Regions from separate parts of the Homo sapiens genome. Here region 2 is linked to region 1. A link means that fine-mapping ties the variant in region 1 to the expression of a gene that starts in the linked region. Tissue or cell type: whole blood. Region 1 holds a variant in brackets; the other region holds the start of a gene. All regions are shown on one strand. Distances are between the middles of the regions.

Region 1 (7,935 bases):
TGTGTGCTTTAAATCACCTCTAGGTTACCTCCAATACCAATGCAATGCAAATACTATGTAACTATAGCATGTTATGCTATATTGTTTAGGGAATCATGGCAAGGGAAAAAGTTTGTACACCTTCAGTACAGACGCAACCATTGTGAGTGAGCCTAGCTACAGTTTTGATCTGTGCTGGTCAAATCTGTGGATGTGGAAGCCACAGAGATGGAGGGCCGACTGCATCTTATTGGATCCTCCTTTCAACCCACTGAGGGTTGTCACCAGCCCCATTTCCTGGAGCTGGAAACTGAGGCTCAGAGAGGTCATATGACCTGGTGCCAGTGGCGTGACTGGTCAGTGGCAGAGCTGGGACCTTCCCTGCGTTGCTCAGAGTGGGGTCCTCGGTGCAGGGCTGTCCCTAGGGAGCCTGACCCAAGTCTGCTCTGCCCCAGGTCATCCCTAGCACTGGGGACAGCGAGCATCTCTTCCGGATCCTGGCCAATGGCTCCATAGTCCTCAATGGCAGCCTCAGCTACAACAACAAGAGCGCTTTCTACCAGCTGGAGCTGAAGGCCTGTGTGAGTGGGGGTGCCGGCAGGCGGGCCTAGGACCCACGGCGCTGGCTCACGGGTGGCCATCTCCCCGCAGGACTTGGGCGGCATGTACCACAACACCTTCACCATCCAGTGCTCCCTGCCTGTCTTCCTGTCCATCTCCGTGGTGGACCAGCCTGACCTTGACCCCCAGTTTGTCAGGGAGTTTTACTCGGCCTCTGTGGCTGAGGATGCAGCCAAGGTGCACGGGGGACCTGTGGGGTGTGGGTGGAGGCGGGAGGCGGGGAAGTTTGAGGAGCACTGACCAGGCCCCATTCCAGGGAACCTCGGTGCTGACGGTGGAGGCTGTGGATGGCGACAAAGGCATCAATGACCCTGTGATCTACAGCATCTCCTGTGAGAACGGGGTGTCCCCAGGCCAGGGCTGGGCCGGGGCCAGGGTGGGGTCTCCGTCAGAGTCCCTGGAGGCAATGGGCCTGGGGCTCCGTCAGAGCCACTGGAGCAGCTGTTCCAGCTGTTCCGCCTTTCTCCTTGCCAGACTCCACGCGGCCCGGCTGGTTTGACATCGGGGCAGATGGGGTGATCAGGGTCAACGGCTCCCTGGACCGTGAGCAGCTGCTGGAGGCGGATGAGGAGGTGCAGCTGCAGGTCACGGTGAGCAAAGGCCCCACCACCCCTGTCAGAACCCTGCTCTCTAACCTCTGGCCTTTGATCTCTCTCTCTGAGCACTGGCTCTCTGCCCTCTGCCCTCTGCTCTGTGCCTCAGGCCACCGAGACACACCTCAACATCTACGGGCAGGAGGCCAAGGTGAGCATCTGGGTGACAGTGAGAGTGATGGACGTCAATGACCACAAACCTGAGTTTTACAACTGCAGCCTCCCAGCCTGCACCTTCACCCCCGAAGAGGCCCAAGTGAACTTCACTGGCTACGTGGACGAGCATGCCTCCCCCCGCATCCCCATCGATGACCTCACCATGGTGGTCTACGACCCGGACAAGGCAGGCGTGGTGGCGTGGGTGTGGGCGGGGGTGGCTGGGGGAGGCCAGTGGGAGCCTGGATCGAGTGACGGTGTCATGTGGTGCTGGGTGGCGGTGCTGGTGGTGCAGGGTGTGATGGCGGAGAATGGGGGTGCTGGGTGCTCTCTGGAAGCCTGTGTTGGTAAGCAGTATCATCCTCTGGGCGATCCGTGTGGGGCTGAATAGAAGGCCATGCTGAGTGGAGGCTGACGTAGAACGTCAGATGATGCTGAGTAGAACATCATTGTCCGTGGTGATGGGTGGCTGGCGAGGTCTCCTGGCATTGGGCGGCCATGATTTGGGTAGTCCTGGGAACTGGGGGAGGCTGAGCAGTGTTGGGACAAGTGGTCTGAGGGTGTGAGGTGGGAGGGTGCTCTTTTTTTTTTTTTTTGAGATGGAATTTCGCTCTGTCACCCAGGCTGGAGTGCAATGGCCCAATCTTGGCCCACTGCAACCTCTGCCTCCCAGGTGGAAGGGATTCTCCTGCCTCAGCCTCCCAAGTAGCTGTGATTACAGGTGTGCACCACCTCGCCCAGCTAATTTTTGTGTTTTTAGTAGAGATGGAGTTTCACCATGTTGGCCAGGTTGGTCTTGAACTCCTGACCTCAAGTGATCCACCTACCTTGGCCTCCCAAAGTGCTGGGATTGCAGGCGTGAGCCACCGCGCCCAGCCATGGGAGGCACTCTTAAGTGGAGGCTGCAGTGAGAGGTGGGTAACACGGTGGCGCTGGAGGATGAGTAACTCTGGAGGGTGTATGGTGTTAGGTGATACTGAGGGGTTGGAAATGTTGCGTGGAGGACAGTGTCGGGTGGGGTTAGGTTGGCCAGAAGGGTGGCACTGGCCAGTGGGGTGACGTAGGGTGTGAGTGGTGTTTGGTGTTGCTGTGGGGGCTGGGGGTGGGGGATGTGAAGGGTGGGTGGGAGGGACAGCTGACAGGAGTGAGGGGTGTGTGTCCAGGCTCCAGCCCAGGTCTGGGACCCACAGTGCCTAGGGAGCTGTCTTCTACAGAGCCTGCATTTGCAGGGACTGGTGACCAGCCCAGCCTCCTGCACCCTCTCTCGCAGTCTTTTGAGAGCCCCCTTCCATGGGACCTCATCGGGCGGGGCATCCAGAGATAGAAGCCTGGGGACTGGGGGAAGATGCAGGTGGGCAGAGCAGGGGGACAGGTCCCTGCTAGACAGCCCACCTTTACAGGGCAGCAATGGCACCTTCCTGTTGTCGCTGGGGGGCCCCGATGCAGAAGCCTTCAGCGTCTCCCCGGAGCGGGCAGTGGGCTCAGCCTCCGTTCAGGTGCTGGTGAGAGTATCCGCGCTGGTGGACTACGAGAGGCAGACGGCGATGGCGGTGCAGGTGAGGGCTGCTCCGGGGTGCCAGGGGCAGAAGCCGAGGGGCACTTGGGCCCCACAGCTGCTGCCTCCTCCCCTGCCCCCAGGTTGTGGCCACAGACTCCGTCAGCCAGAACTTCTCCGTCGCCATGGTGACCATCCACCTTAGAGACATTAATGACCACAGGCCCACGTTTCCCCAGAGCTTGTACGTCCTCACGGTGCCAGAGCACAGCGCCACCGGCTCTGTGGTCACCGACAGCATCCACGTGAGTGATGTGGACACAGTGGGGCTGTGGGGTCCCAGCAAGCGGGCGTGCATGTGTGAGTGTGAGAGTGTGTGTGTGTGTATGTGTGAGATGGGGGTGGCCATGAGTGAATCTGAGTGTGCTGGGGATTCTCCCTTTGTGTGAGGAAGCACGACAGCTCTGTCCCCACGAGCTGCATGGGTGGCGGTGCGTGCATCGCCTCCACACAGCACCCTGCCATGTCTCTGCCTCACAGGCCACGGACCCAGACACGGGCGCGTGGGGCCAAATTACCTACAGCCTGCTCCCAGGAAATGGGTAAGGGCTCAGGGTGGGCCGTAGGCAGGTGGGTGAGCAGGGCCCAGGCCCACCTCTCTGCCTCTCTGCAGAGATAGAATAGCTGGGGAAGACCGAAGGCACTCAGTTACATTTCAATTTCAGATAAACAAGGAATGACTTTTTGAAATAATGAATATGTTGCATATACTGCATGGGATATGCTGAAATATTTGTTGTTGTATATCTGAAATTCACACTGAAATGGGCATCCTGTGTCTCTATTTGCTGAACCTGGCCCCTCTGAGCAGGGCAGACCTCTTCCAAGTGGATCCCGTCTCAGGGACGGTGACGGTGAGGAACGGTGAGCTGCTGGACCGGGAGAGCCAGGCCGTGTACTACCTGACGCTGCAGGCCACAGACGGCGGGAACCTGTCCTCCTCCACCACACTGCAGATCCACCTGCTGGACATCAACGACAATGCACCCGTGGTTAGCGGCTCCTACAACATCTTCGTCCAGGAGGAGGAGGGCAATGTCTCCGTGACCATCCAGGTGTGAGCCTGCCTGGACCTGGTGGGT[A/G]AGGCTGGGGGAGGGGACCAAGCCTGCTCTGTGGGCATGCTGGCCCTGGGTAAAGTCGGGGCTCCGCTGTGTGGCTCTGAGACAGTCACTCAGAGTCTCTGTTTCCTCCCAGGAAATGAAGAAAATTATAGCCTTACTCTCAGGGTCATTGGGGAATAATTTAATGACTTGTGTGAGGAGCTCAGCACTGGGCCTGCCAGAGAAATCCCTCAAAAACATACACTTCTTTTTTATTTACCCACCTGCCCCACTCCAAAAAGGACTTGAGGTGGCTTAGATAAATAGTAAGATAAAAATATGAAAGAAATAAGAAAAAAGAGAAAATAAAGGTGGCATTTGTTAAAGGGCACAAGGTAAAATTAGAACCCAGTGCTACAGAATTGCTTGGAGTGAGCTGCAAATTCTGATCTGAGCTTCATGGTGGCCAAAGCAAAAAAGGAAATGAGATCAGTGGCCAGGTTCACAGAGTTCATGAGATAAAAACCCACTAGTGACTCCAGAGAAACACCGGGGAGTAGCTTCCTCCCTCGTCCTGAGGAGTTCGGAAGCTTCGCCCCTGAGGCATCTTGTGAGAAGTGAGAAACCAGGTCCTCAGAGTGACAATCTGGTGGCCACAGAGCCCTCCCGTCTTTCCAGGACTGTGTAGTTTCCAGAGCATGTTCCTATCCCTGATCTCTTGACCAGCTTTGGAAGCAGGCGGTCTAATAGTTCCCATTTCTCAGGAGACAACAGGCTCAGAAAGGTTAAGTGATTTTCTGTGGTTACACAGCCAGTAAATGATGGCGCTGGGGCTGCAGCCCAGACCTCTCTGGCCCTGAAGCCTTGGCCTTTCCTCCTTCCTGCTTGGCACTTCTCCCCTGGTCTGTGAGCTCCTTGGGGCAGGAGCATTTCTGGTCGGCTGCTGTAACCGTGGTGCCCAGCATGAGCCCCAGGGAGCACTTGATGAATTAACTGGCCTGAGTTCAGGGCACCAAAGGATGAGCAGACAGGATGAGGCTTTTGGAAAAAATAAACATCTCCAGCTGCTTTCAAAGGATGCATGTAATAAACAAGGTCCCAGCAGAATGAAATGGAGGAGCTGAAGGTGGAGACTGGCTGGGAGGAAGGAAAGAATTGGTTGAGTCGGAGTGGTCCCACTCTGGATTCAAGGCCACGTTTGCTGAGCACTTACCCAGTCTTTGGCTGGGCCCTGAGTCCTCAGAGATGAGTCCACCACCATTCCTGCCCCCCAGGCGGCTCCCAGTTAGGAAGAGGGCGTCAGACAGTCACCCAGCGGTGTCACCTGTGCTATGTTGAGGCCCAGAGGAAGCGCCAACCTGGCCTGGAGTCAGGCAGGGAAGGTGTGGGAGGCATCGGGGTGAGGGAACGGAACCTGCAAAGGCCTGGCGGCACAGAGGAACCCGCTGTGTTATCCACACTGGTTCACCCCAAAGACAAACCAAGCATGCCTTCAGGGCCCTGGCAGGACAGGAACACACACACACACTCACGCACGCACTCACACACGCACTCACACACACACTCACACACGCACTCACACACACTCACACACGCACTCACAGACATACAAAGTGAGTGAAGAATCAGCTATTTAAAACATATAGCGCTGACGGCCGGGCATGGTGGCTCCTGCCTGTAATCTCAGCACTTTGGGAGGCCGAGGTGGGTGGATCACTTGAGATCAGGAGTTCGAAACCAGCCTGGCCAACATAGTGAAACCCCATCTCTACTAAAATTACAAAAATTAGCTGGGTGTGGTGGTGCATGCCTGTAATCCCAGCTACTTGGGAGGCTGAGGCAGGAGAATCACTTGAATCCAGGAATTGGAAGCTGCAGTGAGCTGAGATCATGGCACTGCACTCCACTCTGGGCAACAGAGTGAGACTCCACCTCAAAAAAAAAAAAAAAGAAAGAAAGAAAGAAAAAAAAGAAAACAAAACAAAACAAAAGAAGGGCCAGACGTGGTGGCTCACGCCTGTATGTAATCCCAGCACTTTGGGAAGCTGAGGCAGGTGGATCACCTGAGGTTAGGAGTTCAAGACCAGCCTGGCCAACATGGTGAAACCCCATCTCTACTAAAAAATACAAAAAATTAGCCTGGTGTGGTGGTGGGTGCCTGTAATCCCAGCTACTTAGGAGGCTGAGGCAGGAGAATCACTTGAACCCAGGAGAAGGAGTTTGCAGTGAGCAAGAGAGATCGCACCATTGCACTCCAGCCTGGGCAACAAGAGCGAAACTGTATGAAAGAAAAAAGAAAAAAGAAAAAATATGTATATAGCACTGAAGTAGTCATTATGGGAAAATGAGAATCTTGCTGGACTTCACACTTATGAGTTTAAAACTTTCTTTGTCTACAATTTCCTGCCCCCATATCCCCCTTCCTGCTAGAATATCAGTAGCAAAAGGGCCTGTCTTGATGATGGCTCTATTCTTTCTTTGCACCTGGAACGGGGCTGGGCACGTAGGTCCACAGTGGCCGTTTGTGAGATGAAAGAATGGCCTCAGTGCTGAAGATCTCAGAAGCTCTTGCAAACTGCTGACCTGAGCCTCTTAGATGGGAAACTGGGGCTGGGAGATGGGCCCAGGGGCTCCAGGCCTGATGACTGCCTGCGTGGGCCAGCGCTGGAGAGGAGGGTCCGGCTGCATCGGAGGGGCTGGGGGCTGGGAATGCCGATGGCCGATGACCAACCCCTGCTTACGTGCACAGGCCCACGACAATGATGAGCCGGGCACCAACAACAGCCGTCTGCTCTTCAACCTGCTGCCTGGCCCCTACAGCCACAACTTCTCCTTGGACCCTGACACAGGGCTCCTCAGAAACCTGGGGCCCCTGGACAGAGAGGCCATCGACCCCGCCCTGGAGGGCCGCATTGTGCTGACAGTGCTTGTGTCTGACTGCGGCGAGCCTGTCCTCGGCACCAAAGTCAATGTCACCATCACTGTGGAGGTAAGGCCTCGCTTAGCCAGGATGGGCCTGGGGGCCTCCCAAGCCGATAGCCAGCCCCTCCAGCTTGAGTCACACTTCTGCCCTCTGCAGCCAGCCTGCCTGGGTTACAATCCCGCTCACTCGTATGGCCCCAGGCAATTACTCAACCTCCCTAGGCACTCAGGCTCCTCATCTATAAAACGGGGGTGAAAAAGGTTAAAGATTAAGTGAGTTAATGAATGGAAAGTGCTTGGTAGAGTGCCTGACCTATAGACAGTATCAGTGAATATCAGCTCTAATTGTCACTCATAAAGTCCCACCTGAAACCCTCCTGTCTCCCTGCCACCATTGAAAAGCAAAGGGAAGGGGTGAAAATCAGCATTGCTGGTGTCTATTGCACATCAGGGCATCCGCCAAGGTTGGGATGGTTATTACCATTTTGTTTTTATTTATTTATCTATTGATTTATTTATTTTTGAGACAGGGTCTCCCTTTGTCACCCAGGCTGCAGTGCAATAGTGCCATCATGGCTCACTGCAGACTCAACCTCCCAGGCTCAAGCGATCCTCCTGCCTCAGCCTCCTGAGTAGTTGGGACTATAGGCATATGCCACCATGCCTGGTTAATTTTTTTATTTTTGTAGAGATGGGGTTTTTCCATGTTGCCCAGGCTGGTCTTGAACTCCCGAGCTCAAGCGATCCACCCGCCTTGGCCTCCTAAGTAGCTAAGACTAAAGATGCGTGCCACCATGCCTGGCTAATTTGGCTAATTTTTAAAATTTATTTTTCATAGAATCAGAGTCTCACTTATTGTCCAGGCCAATTTTGAACTGTTGGCCTCAAGCGACCCTCTCAACTCAGCCTCACAAAATGCTGGGATTACAGGCATAAGTCACTGAGCCCGGTTTATTACCGTTTTATTGATTGAGCAACTGAGGCGGGCCTAGTTGCTGTGGCTCATGCCAAAAACCTCAGTACTTTGGGAGGCCAAGGTGAGAGGATTGCTTGAGCCCAGGAGTTTGAG
Region 2 (5,000 bases), 31 kb after region 1:
TCCCAGAGGCTCTACTGCTCACAGTTCTGCTGGGCCCTTCCTGGATCTTGGGGAGGCCTGAGGATCCTCGAGCTGCTTCTCTGAGAGGCAGCCCAGGCCTGAGGCCCCACATTCTCTCCCCGCAACTACCCCACTAGAACCCAGCTCCATTACCTGGGCCCAGCACGCTCACTGTCTTTCTTTTTTTGAGACCGAGTCTTGTTTTGTTGCCTAGGCCGGAGTGCAGTGGCATGATCTCGGCTCACTGCAATCTCCACCTTCCAGGTTCAAGTGATTCTCCTGCCTCAGCCTCCCGAGTAGCTGGGATTACAGGCATGTGCCACGACACCTGGCTAATTTTTGTATTTTTTGTAGAGACAGGGTTTCACCATGTTGTTTAGGCTGGTCTTGAACTCCTGGCCTCAAGTGATCCACCCACCTCGGCCTCTCAAAGTGTTGGGATTACAGGCATGAGCCACTGCACCCGGTCTCAGTCTCTTTTTATCATCTGGATCCCACAACAATCTCATGAGGGGGGCATTATCATCCCATTTCACAGATGAGGCCACTGAAGTCAGAGGGAGAAGACTTGACCAAGGGCACACAACTGGGGCACACAACTGGGGCACACAACTTGGTCAAGACTTGACCAAGGGCACACAACTGAGGGAAGGCTGTAGCTCAAAGCCAGTTGTGCCCAAGCACAAAACCTGAGTTCTTTCTAAGATCGTGGACACTGACACTTGGCTCTTTTTTTTTTTTTTTTTTTTTTTTTTTTTTTTTTTTTCTGAAGACAGGGTCTCACTCTGTTACCCAGGCTAGAGTGCAGTGACACAATCATACCTCCCTGTAGCCTCCAACTCCTCAGCTCAAGCAATCTTCCCTCATCAGACTCCTAAGTAGCTATAGGCATGCGCCATCACACCCAGCTAATCTTTAAATTTTTGTAGAGATGGGGGTCTTGGTATGTTGCCCAAGCTTGTCTCAAATTCCTGGCCTCAAGCAATCCTCCTGCCTGGGCTTCTCAAAGTATTGGGATTACAGGTATGAGCCACTGCACCTGGCCTGACACTTGGTTCTCAAAACCCCCTTTCTGGTTTTTGAGGTCAGGCCAAGGTTCCTCCCAAGCAACAGTGCCAAGGAGCATGCAGTAGAAGAAGCAAGAGCTCCCCTCCCCCTGCATACATTCCCCCACCTGTGGGAACGCACACACCCTATGAGCAGATGAGCCTGTACACTTGGGCACAAACAGGTTGAGTGTGGCCTGACTGAGGCAGAAGGCAGAAATGTCTGCTAGGTATGTAGGCGGGCTCACCTGGCATGCAAAGGAGTGAACAGACTGCTTGTGGATGTATGTACCAGCTTGGGCCACTCTGGGGCCAGGACCTGGCTCCTGTGTTCTGCTCAAGAAGAGCTTGTTGTGCGTATGTACACCCTGCATGTGCAGAATGGCCTGTGTGTTTGTGCCTCGTGGGGGCTACTTGGACCCTGTGGGTATCTCACTCCTAGGAGAGCTTATCTGGGTGTTGCACAGGTGCCTGTGTCCTGCTCCCAGGGAGAGCAGCAGCCCCTGTGGCTGCCCATTCAGGCCACAGAGACCTGGCCAGCCATTCCTTTCCCTCTAGGATTTCTTTCCAGCATGGAGCTATCCTTACACCCATAAACAGGGCCAGAACTGCCAAGCACCTGCAAATACCTCTTCTGTGCTGACAAGACCAACAAAGGCTTGAGGGACTTCGTCAGGCATCTGAGTGTGTCTGAGAATCTCAGTCTGCTGCCCCTCGTCCCCTTCTCTCGTAGTGCCCTCAGAGCAGCGAAGTCTCCTGCTCGGGGGTGTGGGGGGAGAAGGAATCTAAAGGTGTTAGCCAGACCTGCTTCCAGAAACGGCCCTCAGACCATGCATACATACATACATAGGAGGGCAAGAATGGACGTTCATGGACGTGCAAACGTGGGCCAGTGTGGGTGGGAGTGGGCAGCACGCTAAGAGACAGAGTGTGTGTGTAAGAGGGAGTGTGTGCACAAGGGTGGCAGTCTACTCCAGGGTATCTGGGTACGCAAGGGACCCCATGAGCAGGGGTGAGCAGGCCAGGGCAGGGTGGCCCCGAGTGTGTTGTGATCAGGGAGTATTGTTGAGTTGATGTCCATGCTGTGATCCGCGATGGCTGGTTTGAGTGCGTAGCTGTGCCTGGGTGTGTACGCAAGGCTCCCACCCAGTACCCTGGGTGACAGGTGGCCGTGTGTATGAGTCTAATGGAATGACCAACAGCCATTGTGTGTGTGCGGTAGACCTGTGGCCTCACTCGAGGAAATGAGGCGCCCGTGCGTGAACGCGGTGTTGTGTGATCGCGCCCCGGAGTGTGTGCCACACTGGTTGTGTGACGGCGAGTGTGCTCAGTAGTGCGAGTGGAGCCAGTGGAGCGTTGAGCTCGCTCCGGGGAAGATGAATCAACGCGGGAGGACGCCCTCCCCCCAGTGGCGGGAAGCACCCCCTCCCGCGCGGCCATGCCGAACAAAGCCAGCGGGCGGCGGCAAGGCCGGGCGCGGGGCCGACCCCACAGCCAGGTCAGCCTGGCCCGCCGGGCCCCTCTGATGTTCGGCCCAGGGCTGCGGGACCCGCCCCCGCCCCGCCCCGCCCCGCCCCGCCCCGGCGAGGAGCCTGGAAACAGACACCCACCGCCCCCAGCCGCGCGCACACACCCGGGCTCATGCCGCGCGAGGTGTCCGAGCCCCGCCGCCGGGGGGCTTCGAGGACCCTGGACAGCGGCTCCGGGGCGGCAGCGAGCGGATGAAGGGGCTGCCGCCGCCCGCCCGGAAAGACAGCGGGTGTGGGCGCGGCGCTTACCAGGCAGTGCCGCTGCTCCGGCTCCTGGGCGAGATGCGCTCCGGCTCCCGCCGCCGCCGCCGCCGCCGCCCGAGCGGCCTCGGCTGCCTCCGGCCGGGCTGGCGGGAGGACCCGCAGACTCGGCGCCGCCGTCCCCAGCGCCGGCTCCGCGCTCCCGCCCCGCGCCCCGCCCCGGGCATGCGCAGTAGCCGCCCGGCCGCCTCGGAACCGCGAGGGGGCGGTGACCGCGGGGAAACCGCGGCCGGAGGGAGCGAGGGAGGGGCGCCCCTCGCTGGCCAACCCTAACTGCGGCCGCTGGGCTCCCGGGTTCCGCGCCGTCCTCGAGCGGGTTCCCACTTCACAGACAGGGAGACTGAGGGCCGGAGAGGCTGCCCCTTTGCTGCGAGCTTGCTGAGGGCGGGGCGCGCCGTCTAGCAGATCTTAGACCAGCCCCTCGAAAGCCCTCGCCTGGCTTGACCAAGGAGGGAACTGGGGCTCAGAGGGGGCAGTCGCCGGCCTGAGGACTCGAGGCGCCTGGATGGGGACCCAGGTCGGCGCGATCTCCCGGCTCCGCCAGCGAGGAAATTTCCCGCCTCCGCCCCCCCCACCCCCGGCCGCACTTCCGGCCTCCTCTTCCCCGCCCCCGGCCCTTTGTCTCGCCGCTGCCCACGCTCCAGCGAGTGGCGGGGACGCCGGAGGTAGTGGTGCGGGAGAGATGCCTTCCAGTCCCTGGCTGCGGCCTCCCCGGGGGCCCGCCCGCCCTCCCCCCTCCCCCTGGATACCCTCGAGCAAATCATTTCACCTCTCTGCACTTCAGTTTCTCGATCTGTAAAACGGGACTAACATTATGCACCTCACGGTGGTCTTGGAAGGGCAAAGTAGGTGTTCAGGGGTTTCCAGTGGTATCTGAATCACCAAGGACACAGAGACTCGCTGCCCACCCCCTCCACATTTCCCTGCAGAGAAGGAGTTCCCTTCCCCTTGACTTCCCAGAGGAGAAAAAATAATTCCGTAATTGCTCTAGATGTGACAAAACCCTCTCGCACCGGTACTATGAAGCCACCACCATCTATTAATCAATGGTAACAACCATTGGCAATGATGCTTATGTAGGGCCAGACACGGCGCTAAGATTCTGTTTACAGGTTTTATCTAATTTCAATTTCCAATCGCTTAGGAGCAAGTTAATATTAATGTATTATATCTCCATTTTTCAGATAAGAAAAGAGAAGCAGATAAGTAACTTGTTTGTGGTCACACATCTAGTTAGTAGTGGAGCTGGGATTACAAACCCATGCAGTCTAACTTTGAAACCTCACTTCTTATTCTTACATTTTACTCCCCTCTCTTACTTGGTGAACCGTAAGTCACCGTGATCCTTTAAAATATATATATATATATATATATATATATATATATATATATATATATATATATATATATATTTAAAATTCTAGGTGATAAATGAAGAAAATCCGTGGGACTGGCGTCTCCAGGCAGCACGCCAGGCAAGGAGAAAACCTCAGCGTGTCGGACCGGTTTCAGAACCACGGACAGCACCACACCAGGGCTGCTTCCTCACATTTCCGGTCCTGAAAATTGCTCATTCACTGCCCACAAGGCCATTTCGCTTCAGAGCTTACAAACCCTTATTCCACATTCATCATTTCATTTTTTTCTCCCTACAGCCCTTCAAAGTAAACATTACTGGCTCCATGACACAGATGAAATTAAGGCTTGGAGAAGTTCACAGATGTGAAAAGTGGCAAGAACCAACCTGTGATCGAAAAAGGTCCCCCTGGGACAGGACAAGGGTGGACAGGAGCAGAGACTAGGCAGGAGTGAGGAGGCTATGGCAGGTGTTCAGGTGAGCGATGATGATGCCTGAACCACGGCGGCATTTGTAGGGATGGAGAGGAAGAGTCAGATTGGATACCTATCTAGGGGTAAAATCAATAGGCCTTGACCATGAGGTGGATGTGGGTGGAGGGGAGAGAGAACTCTGCTGTCTCTCTGAGATTCTGCCTTGGGGAGCCAGGTGGATGAAGGACAGATAATTTATGAGCTCTGGGGGGAAAGAGGGGTTTATAGGATGGCCGTGCTGATACATTTGAGTCCAGAACTGAGTTCTGCCGTGGCCAAAGCTGAAGGCAGACAAGGGAGCCCATCCACCTCCAGCTGGTGCCGGAGGTCATGG

Evidence for each region. PIP is the estimated chance that this variant, and not a neighbour inherited with it, causes the effect.
Region 2: GPRIN1 starts here. The variant in region 1 is fine-mapped to the expression of GPRIN1 in whole blood (TOPMed, PIP above 0.99).

Annotation. Positions count from the first base shown.
Region 1 is chr5:176,574,650-176,582,584 of GRCh38, forward strand. CDHR2 (cadherin related family member 2) reads left to right here. Exons shown (of 32, transcript NM_017675.6): 8 at 435-560; 9 at 631-777; 10 at 857-932; 11 at 1,075-1,190; 12 at 1,303-1,536; 13 at 2,750-2,905; 14 at 2,988-3,149; 15 at 3,385-3,446; 16 at 3,716-3,959; 17 at 6,694-6,933. Among named protein-coding and RNA genes, the nearest start is that of CDHR2, 29 kb to the left of the region's middle. RefSeq lists a silencer at 3,779-4,073. The variant A/G (reference allele first, on the strand shown) is at 3,987.
Region 2 is chr5:176,607,175-176,612,174 of GRCh38, forward strand. It overlaps GPRIN1 (G protein regulated inducer of neurite outgrowth 1), which reads right to left and starts at 2,982. Exons shown (of 2, transcript NM_052899.3): 1 at 2,825-2,982. RefSeq lists silencers at 2,563-2,622, 2,683-3,312, 4,214-4,508.